Regions from separate parts of the Homo sapiens genome. Here region 2 is linked to region 1. The links come from fine-mapping of genetic effects on gene expression. A gene starts in region 1. The other region holds a variant in brackets. All regions are shown on one strand. Distances are between the middles of the regions. Region 1 holds the start of EPHA5 (EPH receptor A5). Region 2 overlaps EPHA5 (EPH receptor A5).

Region 1 (9,682 bases):
AAATCACTAAGCATCTATAGATTGCAGAAGTCAAATTATATGAGAAAAAGTGATTAATGAGTTCAGCATATACATGAAATCTTTCTGCCCCCTGACCTTCCAAAGTCCCTCCAGAAGCAAACAAACAAATTGGAAAACTCTAATCTGAATCTCTAAAAAAGCCCAAACATTTTATGAATATTTTAGCATAAATAAATATTTTAATACACTCTGCTGCTCAATTTATAGCAATAGCATGGAGAAACAAGAAGAGAAGAATCTATATTTCACAGAGCAGAAATAAAGATCTAGGATACTAGGTGGAAAGATGGAAAACTGCTCAGCTGAGATAGGATGAATTAGATAATGACATAGATATTTACACAATTTTATTTCCAATTAAGTATAATAGTGACATATTACAAAATGTGCCCCAAACAGCAGGCTTTTTTCAGAGCACCAGGTGGTAAGGTACATCTCATTTTTGATTAGATCCCCAAGCCCCATCTCCGTGTAGTCCAAGTTTTGCTGTGTGACGGACTAGATGAGGTAAGACAATACAATCTGTGGGTGTTAAATCTGTAACAACAGCCAGGCTGTGTTCCACAAGATTCCAGCTCTGCCTTCAACACCTTAGGAGACCGGCGCTATTTCTCCTTCCTTCTCTTTCCTTCTGCCTCTTCCTCCCTGCACAGTCTTGGCTCTTGTTCCCATTCAGTGTCACTCTCCCTGAGAATTGAATTCTTCCAATTTTCTAACCAAGAGCGACTCCCTTTCATCTCCACCTAAGTTCTCCCCTTCCATCACACCTGGAGAGAGGACTTGAAATCTAACGGAAACACGAAAGGATGAATGATATTACTGTTAAACCTCTTCAAATTCAAACGAGGATGCCCCTTTCGGTGGAATAAGACAGTTAATAAAAGAGCCTCCTCCAAAGCTGTTATAATCCTCCAGACGTCTAACAGAATGAATTTAACATAAGGTGTTAATAAAAGGTCTACGACTCTCAAAAACATTTTTTCAACTTTATCAGAAAGGGAAAATACCCAATTGTTTGGCTTAAGCATGAGAGATAGCTATATATATGTATATAGATAAATGCAGATAAATACACATAAGCCTTTAATTAGCGTTTAAAAAATAAACTTAGAGGTTAAAGAGAAAGTTCATGGGATGAGGGCAGGGGAGCCTCTATCTGCCCTGCTTTCACACCCTTCCTTTAGAGCTGGCATTGCTGGGATATCAGCTCAGCGCCTTCTCCTACAGCGGAGACTGAACCCATGCAAGTCACGAGGACACACACGACTCCACCACTGCTGCTTCATCTTTCCGGTCTAGTGTCCCGTGCCCAGGAGTGGAAGGAATTTCTGCAAGGTTTTGAGCCTCACGCGTCGCATCCACAGCCCCAAACCGAAACCTCACCATTCTAGCCAAAGTGGGTAGGTTTTTCTATGTTTTCATGGTGGAGCTGACAGATCTGGATCTGAGATACTGTTCCCGCCCCTCCGCGAGTAATGCGCCCTTGGGCTGAGACCCGAGCTCAGTCCGGGTGTGGGAGAGGAGCAAGCGCTGCTGGAGGGGACCCAAAGGCAGAGGTCTCAGGTCCAAGAGGCAGGCGGACAGAGGGGCTGAGCACTGTTCCGGGAGCACGAAGAGCGACACAGGTGTTGCTCCCGCGCCAGCTCTACTCTCCCAGAAAAAGGCAGGGACAGTATTCTGGGTCTGGAGCACAGGATTGGGGGTAGGGAGGGGGACTGGGTACTCCTGGATCAGGTGCTGGCCAGAGCAGGTCTTTTCCGTCTTTAAGACATGCCCAGGTGGGTTTTAGCGGCAACTTCCTAGCAGCGACACTCCCCCTCACCCCTCCTGCCGCGGCATCCCACCTTCTCGCCTTCTTCCACCTTGGCTTGAGTGTGACAATGAACTCCCCCAAGAAGAAGGGCACCCAACTGTGTGGGGCGCCTTCTGTCCTTCGCTATACCCCTCCCACGAGAAATAAAAGCTCCTGCCACCCACCCCAGAATAGCAGCTGGTGATGCCCTAAATAACAGCTCCCAGCAGGCACTTTCCCCAAAAATAAAAGCATCCAGCCACCCCCACAACGTTTCCCATCACTGGCCTCAAATAACGGTTTCTAAAAGCCCCACTGCTCCAGAGATCCTTGTCACTGAGCTTCCAACAGTTCCCACTCCTTCAAGCCCGAAATGTCACTTCCCCACGCGCCTTAAGTGAGGCCCAGCCGCACCCATCCCCCTGGAACGGGCCTCCATTCCCCAAAGGAGGCCTCGACCTCCTTTCCCCCAAGGTTTTCCACCTTCCCAGCCCCCCAACCAGCCTCTGTCCACACGCATGTTCCTTGCCCAGCACTCCGCAGCTAACGTCAAACAATGCAACCAAAAACCGCAGAGGGGAGCGAAAAGGCCAGTGGAAGGGGACGACAAATACCAATTTGAGATGAGACTGCGATTTAGTCTGCAGCAGCAGCGTCCAGCGCGCTGAGACCTGAACTCCCAGGCCCCGCCTAGCCCCTCCGCCCCAGGTCGCCACGGTCCCCACCCCCATCTCCCTACCTTCGTTGCTGGGGCTGGCCAGGAGGGTCCGGAGTGCGGCGCACAGGAGAAGGCACGTCCAGAGGGGAGCCCGTCGAGGTGCAGAGTAGCAGCCGGCCAGGGACGCTGGGGTGATGGGGGTGTCGCCGCCGCCGCTTGGGGGCCGCCGGCGTCCCGCACCCCGGGGCCCCGAGCCCCGCATCTTCTCCGAGCCTCCTCCGGTGCCGCTGTCCCGAGCGGCTCAGTCCACCGCTTCGGCCTCGCAGAGCGGCGAAGGGAGACTCGGGAGTCCTCCTTGTCCCCCCTTGGGGTCCTACGCCTTCTGGCACGCGGCTCCTCCAAATGTAGGAACCACGGATCCGGCTGAGACAGCTGAAGTTTGCTTCTGGCTCCTCTCGCCTCCCCCTTTGGTGGGGTTAAATGAAATATTAGTTCTGGTTGCTAGTGCAGATCTGGACTCGGATCAAGGGTGTCGAGAGGGTCCTGGGTCCTGTTCCTTTGCCTTTCAAAAAGACTTTTTACGGATTGAGAATTTTTAAATACCACTAGGGGAAAGGTGAAGGTTCTTTGCAGCCTTCAGTGTTGAAATGGACGAAGGTAAGGAAGGCAAATCATTTTAAGACGAAATCTCCGATTTTTTAAAAAAGGAGGAAAAAAGCAGGGTGGCTAAGGATAAAGAAAGAGGACTTGAGAAAATGTGGAGAATGAAAAACAGGAGAGCAGCGAGCAAAAGCAAAGATCCAGAGTTCAAAGAGACTGGCAGAAGGAAATAGCTGCGGGCTGAGTGCTGAAGAGGGGAGGGACTGACGGCTGCCGGCCGGTAGGAGCGCGGAGCTGCGCTGCGGCGGCCCAGGAGCTGCTGCGGTTCCCGCTGCTCGGGGAGCAGGCGGTGTGTGCGCGGCTGCGAAGTCGAGGTTGAAACTGCACCGCCAAGGCGCGCTCCTGCTGTGTCTGGAGCTCCGGCGTCTCCTCTGCCTCCCAGCTCAGCGCCTCCCACCCTCCTTCCCTCCTCCTCTTCCCAGCTCCCCCGCCCTCTGCTGCTCGCAGCCTCGCCAGTGAGAATCTACTGTAAGTGTGAGTTGCTTCGACGAAGTCACACACCCACGGAGGGAAGTAATCTGGAGGCTGCCTTGGTGAGTGTTGCCTAGCGGTCTCCGGGAAAGGCGCGTCTTCCTCCCGGGATAATTAGGGCAAGGAATCCTGACGACGCTGGCGAGGACTGGGGTTCCCGGGAGGCGGAAGGGAGATCAGCCCCAGCTCAGCCGGCGGCCCTTAGAGACGCGGGTCCCTCCGTTTGGCATCTTGCCTGCTGTCCCTCACAGGCTGTGGCATCAACAACCTTGTCGTCACATCGCCGCGCATTCGCAGGCTCTGCTGGTCCGTGGCTAGTTTCTTAAACACCCATACCGCTTACCGCTGCTGACTCTTTCTGTTCTTCCCATACTTTGATGGCTGGAATAGGATAATTACTCAATGTTTTCTTCAGAAGTAAATTGTAGAGTAAATAAAGAGGCGGTAGCTCTGTTTGAGATTTCAAGGAGTCAAAGAATTTGACTATTGAGATTTGTAGTGTGCCAGGTACTTTCATAGGTGGCGATTTAATTCATTTATTTCATTGATAAAATGTTTTAGTATTTTAGAAATTGGACGATATGCAGATACACGACATACATTCCAGTGAAATTAGCCTCGGTCAAATAAATTCAGGGTTTTGAAAAATTAATTATTTTAATTGATTGTGCCCTATAGCATTGGGAGATTTACAAACAGTGAAAAAAAAAACAGTTAAAACAATCAACTTTCTATGCTTCACCTCTATTATGTCTTTTCTTGCTTTAGTATATTCCCTCGATTTATTCATTCTTTCAAAGAGATACATTTGAAGGACAATTTTAGTACACAGGCATTTAAAAACAAAAGGCTGCAGAGAAAGCACTTACAGAAAGGTCTGATTATAGAAGAAAGATATCTCATTTAATTTCATGTATAGTAACCACTGTAAAGCTTGGGCTTCCGTTCACACCTAATAAAGGTGAGTCAGCTCACCAGTTTTGACATATCTAGAGCCTTGTTTGTCTCCACAATAAATTCCTCACTATCTTTAGCTGGTGACATTTGTTTTTTGTTTAAATATTTGCAATAAAGATGAAAGAATAAAGCAGCAGTGATGCAATTTTGTAAAGAGGTGAAAGCTCATCTTTGATTTCTTTTTTTCCTGAAATGTTTTGGCACCAGAAGTCTGAAAGCAGGTTCTTTTTATTATAATGTGCTCCGAATGGATGAAGCAAATTTAGAGGAAGAGCAGTGAATCAGTTTCTCAGTTTGGCAAAAAGCCTCACGGGTGAGATGGAAAGTTAAAATTTATGTTTCTATTTGAGGACCATTCAAAATGTAAGCTCCCCTCTCCCCTACAATTATAATTGAGTTACTTAAAAATATTTAAGCAGAATACCAACTACGATATCTAAAGCCCAGAAATATGTAGTAAAACTAATATGAGTTTAATGGGGCTTTGAGCTCGTTCCTTTACTTCTACAGGCTTCAGTATCCTCATCAGTAAAATGAGGAATTTGGAGAAGACAATCTTCAAGCCTTCTTCCCTTCCGTTGGTTGCATGTCTATGTGACTACCCTGTTCATCTATCTCCAATTATTTACTATTGGCCACAAAATAACCAAATTTTTCAGCCTAGAATTTAAAGCCTTCTACTACAAATGGTTTAAATATATTTTTTATTCTATACTACAATGTTAAACTCATTTTTCCCCTAAATTACCTCATGCCTCTCTGATTTTTCTACCTGTCATTCCATTCTAAAGAAATCCCACCTCTGGAAATATTTATCCGCCCCCCACCTCACCCCACCACAACACACACACACACACACACACACACACACACACACACTACTGTCATCTAAATCATACCCAGTGTCCTAGGAGAGCCAGGCACTCAAGATTAAATTCTTCTTTTCTCAACAAAAAAGTTACTTCGTTCTCCTCCTCAAAGTACTCATAGCTTTACATAAATCAACACAATGCCAATATTTTCTGAATCAAAGGTGGAATAAAATTGTCTAACTATATCTAAAGAGAAGAAAGACAGAATTTAAATCTGGTTTGTCAAAGAAAACCTGGGACGCTGGTCAGCATGGGCATAATTGTGTTATCTTCTCCCAACATAGCTAAGTTACATGATTGAGAATACAGAAAGCAAAATTCTTTGTATTCTCCACCTTAAATTGCAGCCATCTTTCTCATAGTTCTTTAATAATATTGATTACACATCTCTGAAAGAATGAACAGCTGTAAAGTTCATTGAAGCTGTAAAGTTCATGAAGTTCTGATGACAACAATGAAAATCATTTTTTGATCTAAGGAGGGTTAATCAGAAAAGGTAATGATGGTGGTTTGACTTGGACTTCAAGCTCAAAGGAGATTCACATTTGGCCACGTGTTGATGTCTTGGCATATTAATACTTTTTATTTTAACACAATTACATTGAACCATGGCATTGCATGAAAACTAGATTTGGTTTATATTTTTCTTTTATACTTATTGTTTTGCACAACAAAAGGCCATGCCATCAATATTGGTTTTGGTGCCCTATTGTTTGCATTTCTCATTTCTTGGAATAGCTACTATGACCTTAAAAGATGCAAGTGGTTAGTGTCTCCCAAGATCTGTGCTTTTGTGTGACTTCAGTACTAAGTATTCCTGAAGGAAGGATATTCAAAGTAACCTTGATAAGGTGCCTTGAAAGTTTACTAACCTCATAAAAAGTTTTAATATTATAGTTAGGTTCAGTGTATCAATAAGCCCAAATGTATCTTCCCTGCATTCAAAGATTCAAGAAAAGCAATTTTGACAGAAAGCCTTGCTAGTTTTTCCTGAAGATTTGCTATGTGTAAAGCATTATGTGACGTTTTTACCTTAACTATTTTACTTAATGCTGACACTTCAACCCTGATGTTGGTGTAATTATTATCCCCATGTTAATGATGAGAAAACTGAGGAAATGAGATTAGGTGATCCAAGTAGTCTCACAGCTGGTAAGACACGGAAACTTTCACCCATGGGATTGAGTCTATTGGAGAAAAGTCCTACATAACAGAAGTAAAGAATAAATTTGATAGCCAGGTTGATCAGAAAAAGAGAACTACCCCAAAATTCTGCATGAATGGGAGCAATGAATACATGAAAATATTTTAATTTTCAGGTTTAAGTCTAAAAGCGATTTTCCAAATAGGTAGTATAGGTCAGATAAATGAATAGGAGAAAACAAGAAATGAAGGATCATAAGCAAGCATTACTTAAAGAAAAATACTGTTTCGTGTACATAAAAACATGCACACGATTTGTTTGTGTACAATGAAGACAATGGACCAAATCAAGGAAATAACAAGATTGACGTCTGTGGTCAGATAATAGTAGCTCAACACATGGCACACAGCCCCTTTAAACCATGGTAAAAAATATAAGCAACAGTCTTTACTAAAACAATTTAAATAAAACTCCATAAACTCAAGAACATTTTTCCTCATATAATTGTAGCAATTTTTTACAAATCAGTTTTAAATATTTTTGTCACTTAGCTAGATTCTTTCTTTGGGGGAATTTGGTGAAAAATACAAGCAAAGCAAAATTTTAACCCATGGTAGATTTTAGATGAGAAATTATATGATACCCTAATGAAACGATAAGATACCCTAAAGAAGTTAAGTTTTCAGATTCATAATTTTATAAAGAGGATAGATGTACAGTGATATTAATTATTTTGATCTCAAAGGTAAATATTGACTAAAATATATTTAAGCAATCAATAACTCTTGAAGTTCACAACATAGATAATATTGTAATGTATCCATAATTGTGTGTATTATGTCTTAAGTTAATGAACATAAAACATCAAATATTTTTTGTTTAGTGTTATTTCTTAAGCATTTTTTTCCTGAAGTCCTAGAATCTCTTCTTTTTGCTAATGACTCACATTTCTACCTATTAATGTGAAGTTAAATTATTTTTAAATTTAACAAGTTATCAGATGCGTGTTCAATTAAAAAATGCATTAATACCATTTTAATAAATTAATGAGGATATAAATATAGAAAGTATTTTATAACTTAACAATACATGAAATGCTTACTTATCAGAAATTTCACTTATTAAAGATGTCCATATCACAATCAGCACTCTTTTTATCTCTTTTCTATCAATATTGAGAACAGAATAAAGTTGTCACACTGTTCGTGATTATTAATAGGAAGTTATGTAGCAAAGAAGAAAGAATAAGATGTTCAGATGAATTACAGTGAGCCGAAGAGACATGGTGATTGTTGATGGTGGTGGTTTCTTCTTTAATCATTCTTTCATCAATGTGCTAGGATTGCAGATGTTGCAGCATAGCATGAGGCCAAGGCTACTAGAGTTTATGATGAGCCAAATTGACTTGCCAGGAAATTCTTTGGTTATTGTTTGCATCCAGCATCTTGGATAACTGGCATCAGATGAAGTTGTGAATGCTGGGATAATACGGACTTTTGGGACTGAAAAAGTAGGAAATGTGTGGACATAAGAGTCAGAAAATTGAAATAACACTACTGTTAGAGTTAAAATTCTACCTATTCTAACCTGTTTTCTGGACTCCAAAAGTATTTGCAAATATGTGAAAAATAAGCTGTAATATTTTTCACATTCAGAGAACTGTTTATTAATCTCAGTTGATATGTGACTTGAAATTGATAGCTAATCTACTCCTACAAAAACATATTTTATAAAATAATTGCTATAATTTGCTAGGGGAAAACTGATCAATTTTTTTCAATAGCATAAATAATAAAGGGGTACATATGCAACTAGGATTTTTTTATTTATTTATTTTTTTGAGACAGAGTCTCCCTCTGTTGCCCAGGCTAGAGTGTATAGAGTGCAATGGCTGGATCATAGCTCACTGCAGCCTGGAACTCCTGGCCTGCAGTGATACTCCTATGTCAGCCTCCCACGTAGCCAGGAATACAGCCTCCCTAGTAGCCGGGAGTCCAGCCCAGGCTTTTGATACCACTGTTCATTGTCTATTGAACAAGCTTCCAGCTAAAAGTTAGCAGTGATAAACTCATGTACTCTGATATGCTGTTCGTGGGATGTTAATCTGAAACATCTTTATTATCGTTGTTTTAAAATAACATCAAGTGCTTTTAAGGTATGCATAGTTTCAGATCTAGCAATTACATTTTTTATATTGTGAGTAAATTAAAATGGGCCAAAAGATTAAACATAGTGGTATTTTTAACTGATAAAAACCAGAAGTGTTCTAATCTTTAATACGAAATGGTTAATATATTATAGTATATTTATATAATAGAATATTATGGGATCATTTTAAAAATTTTATTTATTTATTTATTTATTTATTGAGACAGACACTCTGTCACCAGGCTGGAGTGCAGTAGTGCAATCAGAGCTCACTGTAACCTTGAACTCCTGGGCTGGCACTACAGGCTTGCAGTACTATACCTGGCTAATTTTTTTAAATTTTTTATAGAGATGGGTATCTCACTTTGTCCAGGCAGGTCTTGAACTCCTGGCCTCAAACCATCCTCCCACCTCAGCCTCCCAAAAGACTGAGATTACAGGCGTGAGCCACAAAGCCCAGGAGGACCATTTAAATATGAGAATATATATATATATAATACTTTCACTTTGATATTTAAAGCTATCTTTACATATATATAAAGATATATAAAGAGAGATATATATAAATATATACAAATATATATATTTTATATATATATTTATATATAAATTTATAAATAAACATATGTATATAAATATATATATGTGTGTGTGTGTGTGTGTGTGTGTGTGTATATATATATACACACACACATATATATATATAAAGCCTGGCTAATAAAAGCAAACTTTTTTAAGTTTGAAGAGCTATATCCCATTATTCACATTTGTATATGACTGGTGGGATAAATTGAATTTATTTTTATATTTTTAATTTTTGCATTTTCAATAATTAGCATTTATAACATATAACAATAGAAAAACATGAGTAAAAATAAAAACATCCTAAGCCAGGCTCAGTGGCCCATGCCTGTAATCACAGCACTTTGGGAGGCTGAGGCAGGTGGATCACCTGAGGT
Region 2 (8,000 bases), 140 kb before region 1:
CAGGTCCATAAAAGCTCTTTGAAAGCTTAGATGTAAATATCAAATGATGAAAATCCTAGAAGTAATTCAAAACAATGAACTAGAAGAACGACTTGGTCTCTCCTTCCAAGCAGTTGAAAATATGTAAAAATTTTACTAATGGCAACATTGCTTCACCATATACTTCATTATATTTTTTCTTTTACTATATTCCTGATTGGCTACAGTTATTAAGTAATCAAACAAGAGGAATGAGATTTTTACAGAGAATTTAGAGCACTATAATGTAAACATGTATGGGTACAATTTTTTAAAAGGTATACTGTTTCAAAGTGACCGAATAAAGGGAGAATAAGTCTATAGACAAAGTCTACAAAGTAAAAAAGATACTGTGCTTTGTCTAACTAGCCAGAGATGACTATGTAGACAAAAATGTGTTTCTTCCAAATTGTTCATATAATATCCTTTATTGTTGCCTTATATTTTTATACTCTAACAAACACATTCTTATGCTCTTCATAGTCTGTACATTTACATACCAACTTACATATCACATTGTTTAGTTCTTATCAATATTCTATGTTTTCTCTCTCCAAACTATAAGTTCCTAGAAGACCAGATTAATGTTGGATGGTATTCCAACATCCCTGTTTAGAAACAGAAAAATATAACTTAAATTAGTCAAATGAAGTATTATTAAATAACTCCTAGAGAAAGGAAGTATTATTAAATAGCTTCTAGATGAAGGAAGTTAAATATTTGCAAGTGCATACATAGCACACTTTATGATTTTTATAAACTGTGCCATTTCAGTACGTTTAAATTTTGAATAAAATCCTGGACATTTCCCATATGAATGAAGAAGTTTTTAGAGTACTGACACCAATAATTTTTCCAAGAAAAATAACAGATTGTATGGCAGCTGAAACCTGAGTATATAAGTAAATATGGCAGATCTAGTAGTTGTTTCTACAAACCAAAGGATGGGCTCCTGAGTTTTGTGTTTACAAGTATCTCATCCTTCAAAGAAAGATCTGCTCTGTTCCATAATGACACGTATCATTAAAAAGTCACATCTTTTTGTGAGTCAGTGTCTGATTGTTTTCCTTTCTTAGAAATATCTACCATATTCTATCATCTTTTAAATTTCATGTATAGTCTTATGGTGTATATCTCATGCCTTAAGAAAACCCTGTATTTGAAGGTAATAACAGATATATTAAAACTTATAATTCTTCAATTTTCCATCTACTGAAAGATTATTAACTATTAACTAGTTATCTCTTTTTAATAATATTAAAAGCTATATTAAAGGAGTGGCATTTGGCAGGAAATACTATAATTTATTTTTAAAGTTCCCTCTATGACTGTTGCTATAAAAGAGAAATAATTTAATATAATTTCATTCATTCATTCACAAGTCTTTAATTATTTTGTCCCAGGACCATGAAATGATAACAAAATTTTTAAAGACAGATTTAAATTTTATCATGAATCTAATATATAGCCTTTTATATATGAGGCTGGAACATTTTCATACAATGTATTTTTTTCCCCTGTCTACAGTGGGGATCAATGTTTGCTACAAGTCTCTTCCTGCTCTTAAATTGTACAGATACACATCTGCGGCCCATTTAAGTAACCTACTGCACCCATTGGAACCATTGGAAAGCTATTTACTAGACTCAAAAGAGCAGTGATTTCTGCCTTAAAGTGTTCACATTTAAACCAACAGACTTTCTCAAATGAAAAACATAAAGAAATAAAAACACAAGAACCTTACTGAAAACAAAGACTCATCATTTTCTCAAAGAAAAGCCCCCTGGCATGAATAAACCATGAATGTACAGATCTAGGAGTGGTATAAGAATAACAAAATTTATAGCTTATCAAATGTTTCTATTTCTTTCCTTCAAACAAGTACCATGGGATTTTTTCAGAATCTGTATTTCTGTTTCTCAAACAATGAACAAAGACTTTTAAAAATCTTTTGGTAGGGGTCGCTGTCTCAGGCGCTGATTATAAAGAGATGAACATTTCCTTTAATGATTCTGTCAGTTACTTAGCCCAAATTACACTCTCTGAATAACAGTTTCCTTGCTGTCAATTTCATCTTATGATTGAAATAAATCCTATCAGTATTTAGCCCAATACCGGGCACATGTTATTCAATTGATGGTAGGTATTACTGTTTTGCATATATCAAATATTGTTTTCAATGTTTCATTTATCAAATCAGATAAATTGATGTCTGTTGGGACAATTCTAATAGTAAAAAGGGTCACTATTGATACTACATGGATATAAAGGGAAAGGACTATAATTGTCCCAGACTTTTCAGTACATATGATTGACATAACGTGACTATGCCAAATACCAGGAACCCAAAAAGCAACAAGACAGAGTATCCAACCACAAATAGTTCAAGGTCTAGAATCCTTTTATGCTGGCTATAATTAAATTGCAAGAGGCACAAAACATTGTGTGAAAATGTTCCAGCCTCATATATAAAAGGCTATATATTAGGCTCATGATAAAATTTAAATCTGTCTTTACAAAAAATTAAAAATTTGATTTCATTGAATTATCATGGTCTCAAAATAGTTTTATTTCTTGTGTTTTATCAGATATTTTTTATTTCATAGGTTTAGAATATTAGGGTGTAAAATAAGATAAGTTAATGGCCAAGCAATTTCCTATTTAGTAAATTTCCATTGTTTGTTATAGTAAGTATCTACATGAGCTCAAATCATTTAGAGCAATAAATTAAGCCTGATCTCTGACATCAACTTAAGGTCACCAAAATGTCATGAGAGCCAAACTTTGCATATGTGTAGATTATATCACTCATATAACAACTGCATGGAATGGCTACAAGGTTTCTACAGTCTCACGTCTACCTTCTTAGAAAACTGCAGCATCTCCCTCATTTTCTTCCTTTTTATCTGCTTTTTTATTTTCAATAAAAGGCAATTGATCTTAGTGATAAATTTCCAAATCACATTAACAGAAATTTTAGAAAATAAAAAAATCTAATGCTACTAAACATAAAAGAGATCCTCATTCTTTCCTCTAAATGGGTAAGTGTAAATGTAGTTACCATTTCAAATAAATCAGACTAAAAATCATTTAAAATATTCATATTGCCCAGTGTTTGTGGAAAAGTGATAAAAAGAGAATTTGTATATAGTGCTTAGGACAAACACACTTTGGGAAGACATTTGGCAGTATCTGCCTAAATTTTACCTTTCTGCATATTTACTATACTAACATTCACATATATGTTGAGCCATATATTAAAATGCTTATTGTGTTATTACTTGCAATAGCGAAAAAATTAGAAAGAACCTATAATAGAATACTACATTGCAATGAAATTAAATTAGTTCTACATTCACCAAAGTGACAAACGATGAAAAATAATGCTGACAGTAAAAGTTGTCAAGTTATACGTGAAATATTTGTCAATTCCATAAAGTTTGAAACCAACAAAACAATAATATGTTCTGAATTAGCGATAGACACACACAGAGCAAATACATGGAGTACAAAAAGTCATAACTTCAGGATAATGTTTACGTTTGGAAAGGTTTATGACAGAATAAGAAGTAGAGTCTCTACTTTTAAAATGCAAGAAGAATGAAAAATGTCTTAAGCATTTCTTTTTTAAATTAGATCTATATTTTCAACCACTAACTCCTATGATTTGGTAGAAAAATCTGAGCATAATAACTGCCGGCTACTGGAACATACTAGGAAGTAAAGTTCTGGGTATCTTTATTAATATTATTTTTTAACTTTTATTTTAAGTGCAGGGGTTCAAGTGCAGGTTTGTTACACAGGTAAACTTGTGTCATGGAGGGCTATCGTACAGGTCATTTCATCACTTAGGTATTAAGCCCGGTGTCCACTAATTGTTTTTCCTGATTCTCTCCCTCCTCCCATTCTCCACTCTCCGAAAGGCCCCAGTGAGTGTTGTTCCCCTCTACGTGTCCGTTTGTTCTCATCATTTAGCTCCCACTTATAAGTGAGAACATGCAGTATTTGGTTTTCTGATCCAGTGGTAGTTTGCTAAGGATAAACATTTTGGTTAAATAAATGAATATTTAAGAGTTTAATATTACCAGACATTTTGTTTTATTATAGGGCTGGAATTTTAAAGTATGGTCAGCTTGAAATAAAATCTATCAACAATTTGACCAGAAAATGTTAGATAACAAAATGTTTCCTAACCCATTTCTTACATAATGAGAGAGAAAAAGCTTGCTGTAGATGTTTGCAAAATATAATTATAAAAGGGGAACTCAGCTAAGCATCACACGTCGGCAAAACCATAGGTGCTCTGAGTCAAAACATCACAGAAGAAATGAGCACCTTCTAAATGTAGCCTAACAAATCTAAAATTAAACTGAAATATAATGTGCCTTAATTTAAGTAATATTTTTTGCAAAGACAAAAATATGTTTCTTAAAGAGTGTAGTGTTTCCACTGAAGTACATTTTGTGCACTCAAGAAATATATTTAATTCGCTTCTTCCTCCGCCCTCCTCCTATCCTTAAGAGAAAAAAAAAGTCGTTAGTTTTCCCTGTTGCTTAAAAAAATCCGTAGAGAATTCAATGTGTACAGGCA[C/A]TTGTTTATTAAAATCCATCTTTTATTGTTTAATTCACGAATTTCCAAGAGGGAAATACGTAGTTCAAGATATCCAGTGATTTGCATACTATGTACTTGTCAACAAATAGGTAGAGTTGAGATTACTTTCATTTCCCTTTGTTTCATGTTATTTTTTTTCCAACTTTGGTTAAATCTGAATTTTAATTCTGCTCACATTCTGCCATTCCTAGGAAAGTGGCCTGAAGCGGACAGCAAGAGGAGTGCACTAAATCGAGCACTTAAATCACTTCTTTCCCCGTTCCATAACCAATTTAAAGACCATTCTGGCATTAATGCTCGGAAATAATATACTGTCAAGGCTGACACAGCAGAAGGACTCTACTTCAAATTATAGGATAGTCCAGGTGACCATGCAATTACAATTAACCCACTGCCCACAATGTCAGTGATAAACAGCTATGCAAGTCATGGTCTAGGAAAGCACTGAGGTAATATTGAAGTTATTTCTGAGGTTTTAGAGTGTTTAAAAACTATGTTCAATTAAAACATCTCACAGTTTCAAAAATTGGTTGCATAGTGAATGTAATAAATTTTCTTTTAAAACAACTATAGTATAAGACATAATAAACGCAATTCAAAGAATATCAGATATACAATTGGTGCTCAAGAAACTTTTATGAAAAAAAATAAAAGAATACAAGCACATTTGCAAAAATCCACAATCTTTCAAATCCCCAAACAGTGGTCTAATGTTTGGAATGGCTTCTCAAAGCCTAATTTTTGCATCATCAAGTTATACAAATTAATGATTATGCTGATCTACTAACCTTAATATAAATAAATTTATTGTTTCCTTTGAGTCTCATAAACATATATGTATACCTATGTTTATCTGTGTGCATACGTATGCATATTATATGCACACACACAAATGCATATTATATGCACACACACAAATACAACATATTCAGTTATGTACATCCTTCAGAGAAAGAAAGAAAAAAACAACAAAAAAAGAAAGACCAAGAGGGAGAGACAGAAAGACGGTAAAAACCCCTGGAAATTTCACCATACATACTCATATAATTTTCATTGTGCATATGTTAGATACATAATAAATCTACACAATTGCTTATTAATAAATGTCATGGTTTCAGTTTTCAACCCTGAATCACATAAGTGTGCTTGCATATATGAAACTGGAACAATGACATGAACGTATATAACTCTTGCTCTATTACTATATATCTAGGTAGAACTCAATACATTAAATTGGTATGATTGGAATTATAATTAATAGTCTACAAATAACTCAATGATCCATTCTTACAAAGTTCTGGTGGGTGTTGTTATTGGCCATTAGAAAGCAATATTTTCTAATTTAAAATAATATCGAAATTATACACATTGGAAACATTGATACCTAAGGTTATACTAATATATACAAATAAGATATTTGAGAAAGCAATGACAATATCTATCAACAATTTTAAAAAACATAACTATGTGTCCTTTGTTGTGACAGGTGCCAGGTGAATACAGAGATAATATAAGTTTTGAAAATTATTATAATCTAGCTGGGGAAAATCTATCACAGATGTCTTAAAAATAGGATTATTACATTTAGTTCAAACTATTTTGGGGAGGAAACTCAAGAACAACTTTTATAGAAAAAATATATGGAACTACTGGGATTAGAGCTATGCCCAGTAATAGAAAAAACATAATCTTGGCTCAGGTGAAATAAAGAGATTACCAGAGCATAGATTTAACGGCTGTTACTATGAGCAGTTGATTCTGAAAATAAAGATTAAAGACTTTAAAAATAAGACAAATAAACTTAAAATCCAATTGGCAGAAAATACTAAGCTATCGTATATATGTATGTAAACAGGTGTACATTTGTGTGTGTGTGTGTGTGTGCGTGTTTATGATGTGTTTGTTGTGTGTGTTTGTACAGGAGCACAAAGGAATAATATGGTCAACAGAGAACTAAGGATTCTTTGAATGTATGGTCAGTTAGAAATTCAGTGTAAATTATAGAAATTGTTGAATAAATTGTAGAAATCCAGCATAAATTGAGAAACTATATTAGCATCATAGCTTATGTGGATAGCGAAGAAAATGGGGTGTAAGGCAATTTCTGAATGACAGACTTCTGATAATTTTCTTGTTTCTGATTTTATAGAACTAACCTGACCTCTCCTAAGCCTCAGCTTCTTAATATAGGTATTATGAATTGAAATGGATAATAGTACTATGGTGAATACAGCCAGATGCCTATCCACTACCCATTCTTTCCTTTTTGCTTAGGAACAGAATCTCTATATTGGATGTAACAGTGTGTCCAACAATAAGCTGACATTTATCACCTCTCCTTGCAGAATAGAGGTGGAGAGAATTCAATGAGATATAAGTGAAAGTATAATAGTCGTATGTTGCTTCCAGGAATTTGCTTTAAAGGGTGCTGATTTAGCTGGATGGATTTTTTTTTATTTTTTTTATTTTTTTTATTTTTTTTATTTTTTTATTTTTTTGAGACGGAGTCTCGCTCTGTCGCCCAGGCCGGACTGCGGACTGCAGTGGCGCAATCTCGGCTCACTGCAAGCTCCGCTTCCCGGGTTCACGCCATTCTCCTGCCTCAGCCTCCCGAGTAGCTGGGACTACAGGCGCCCGCCACCGCGCCCGGCTAATTTTTTGTATTTTTAGTAGAGACGGGGTTTCACCTTGTTAGCCAGGATGGTCTCGATCTCCTGACCTCATGATCCACCCGCCTCGGCCTCCCAAAGTGCTGGGATTACAGGCGTGAGCCACCGCGCCCGGCCTTTTTTTTCATTTTTACCCTTTCCTCCTTCCTCCCTGGAAAGTGGAGTTGATGTTTGGTGATCCAGAAGTCATGCAGGGCTAGAACAGGAGTTTCTTTAAGAATGAAAGCTATATACTGAGATGTCTTTGCAGAATGACCATGATCCAGGAATCTGATCATAAAGAGGATATACTGAGATGTCTTTGCAGAATGACCATGATCCAGGAATCTGATCATAAAGAGGATATACTGAGATGTCTTTGCAGAATGACAATGATCCAGGAATCTGATGATAAAGAGGATATACTGAGATGTCTTTGCAGAATGACAATGATCCAGGAATCTGATCATAAAGAGGATATACTGAGATGTCTTTGCAGAATGACCATGATCCAGGAATCTGATCATAAAGAGGATATACTGAGATGTCTTTGCAGAATGACAATGATCCAGGAATCTGATGATAAAGAGGTACCATATCAGTCTTGTGCTTAGTAACTCTCAGGCTTCTTTTACATGAAAAAATAAATAAATTTCACCTACCTAGGTCTTTGGGCTTTCACTTGTATTAAGCAAAACTAGTTCTAATGAATACATAAGCCTA

What was found. PIP is the estimated chance that this variant, and not a neighbour inherited with it, causes the effect.
Region 2: its variant is fine-mapped to the expression of EPHA5 in tibial nerve (GTEx, PIP above 0.99).

The regions. Positions count from the first base shown.
Region 1 is chr4:65,667,010-65,676,691 of GRCh38, forward strand. It overlaps EPHA5 (EPH receptor A5), which reads right to left and starts at 3,480. Exons shown (of 17, transcript NM_001281766.3): 1 at 2,553-3,480. The coding sequence starts at 2,733. EPHA5-AS1 (EPHA5 antisense RNA 1) reads left to right here and starts at 2,952. Exons shown (of 4, transcript NR_034138.1): 1 at 2,952-3,664; 2 at 4,767-4,872. RefSeq lists an enhancer at 1,098-1,629.
Region 2 is chr4:65,523,922-65,531,921 of GRCh38, forward strand. All of the region lies in intron 3 of EPHA5 (EPH receptor A5), which reads right to left. Among named protein-coding and RNA genes, the nearest start is that of EPHA5-AS1, 140 kb to the right of the region's middle. The variant C/A (reference allele first, on the strand shown) is at 4,609.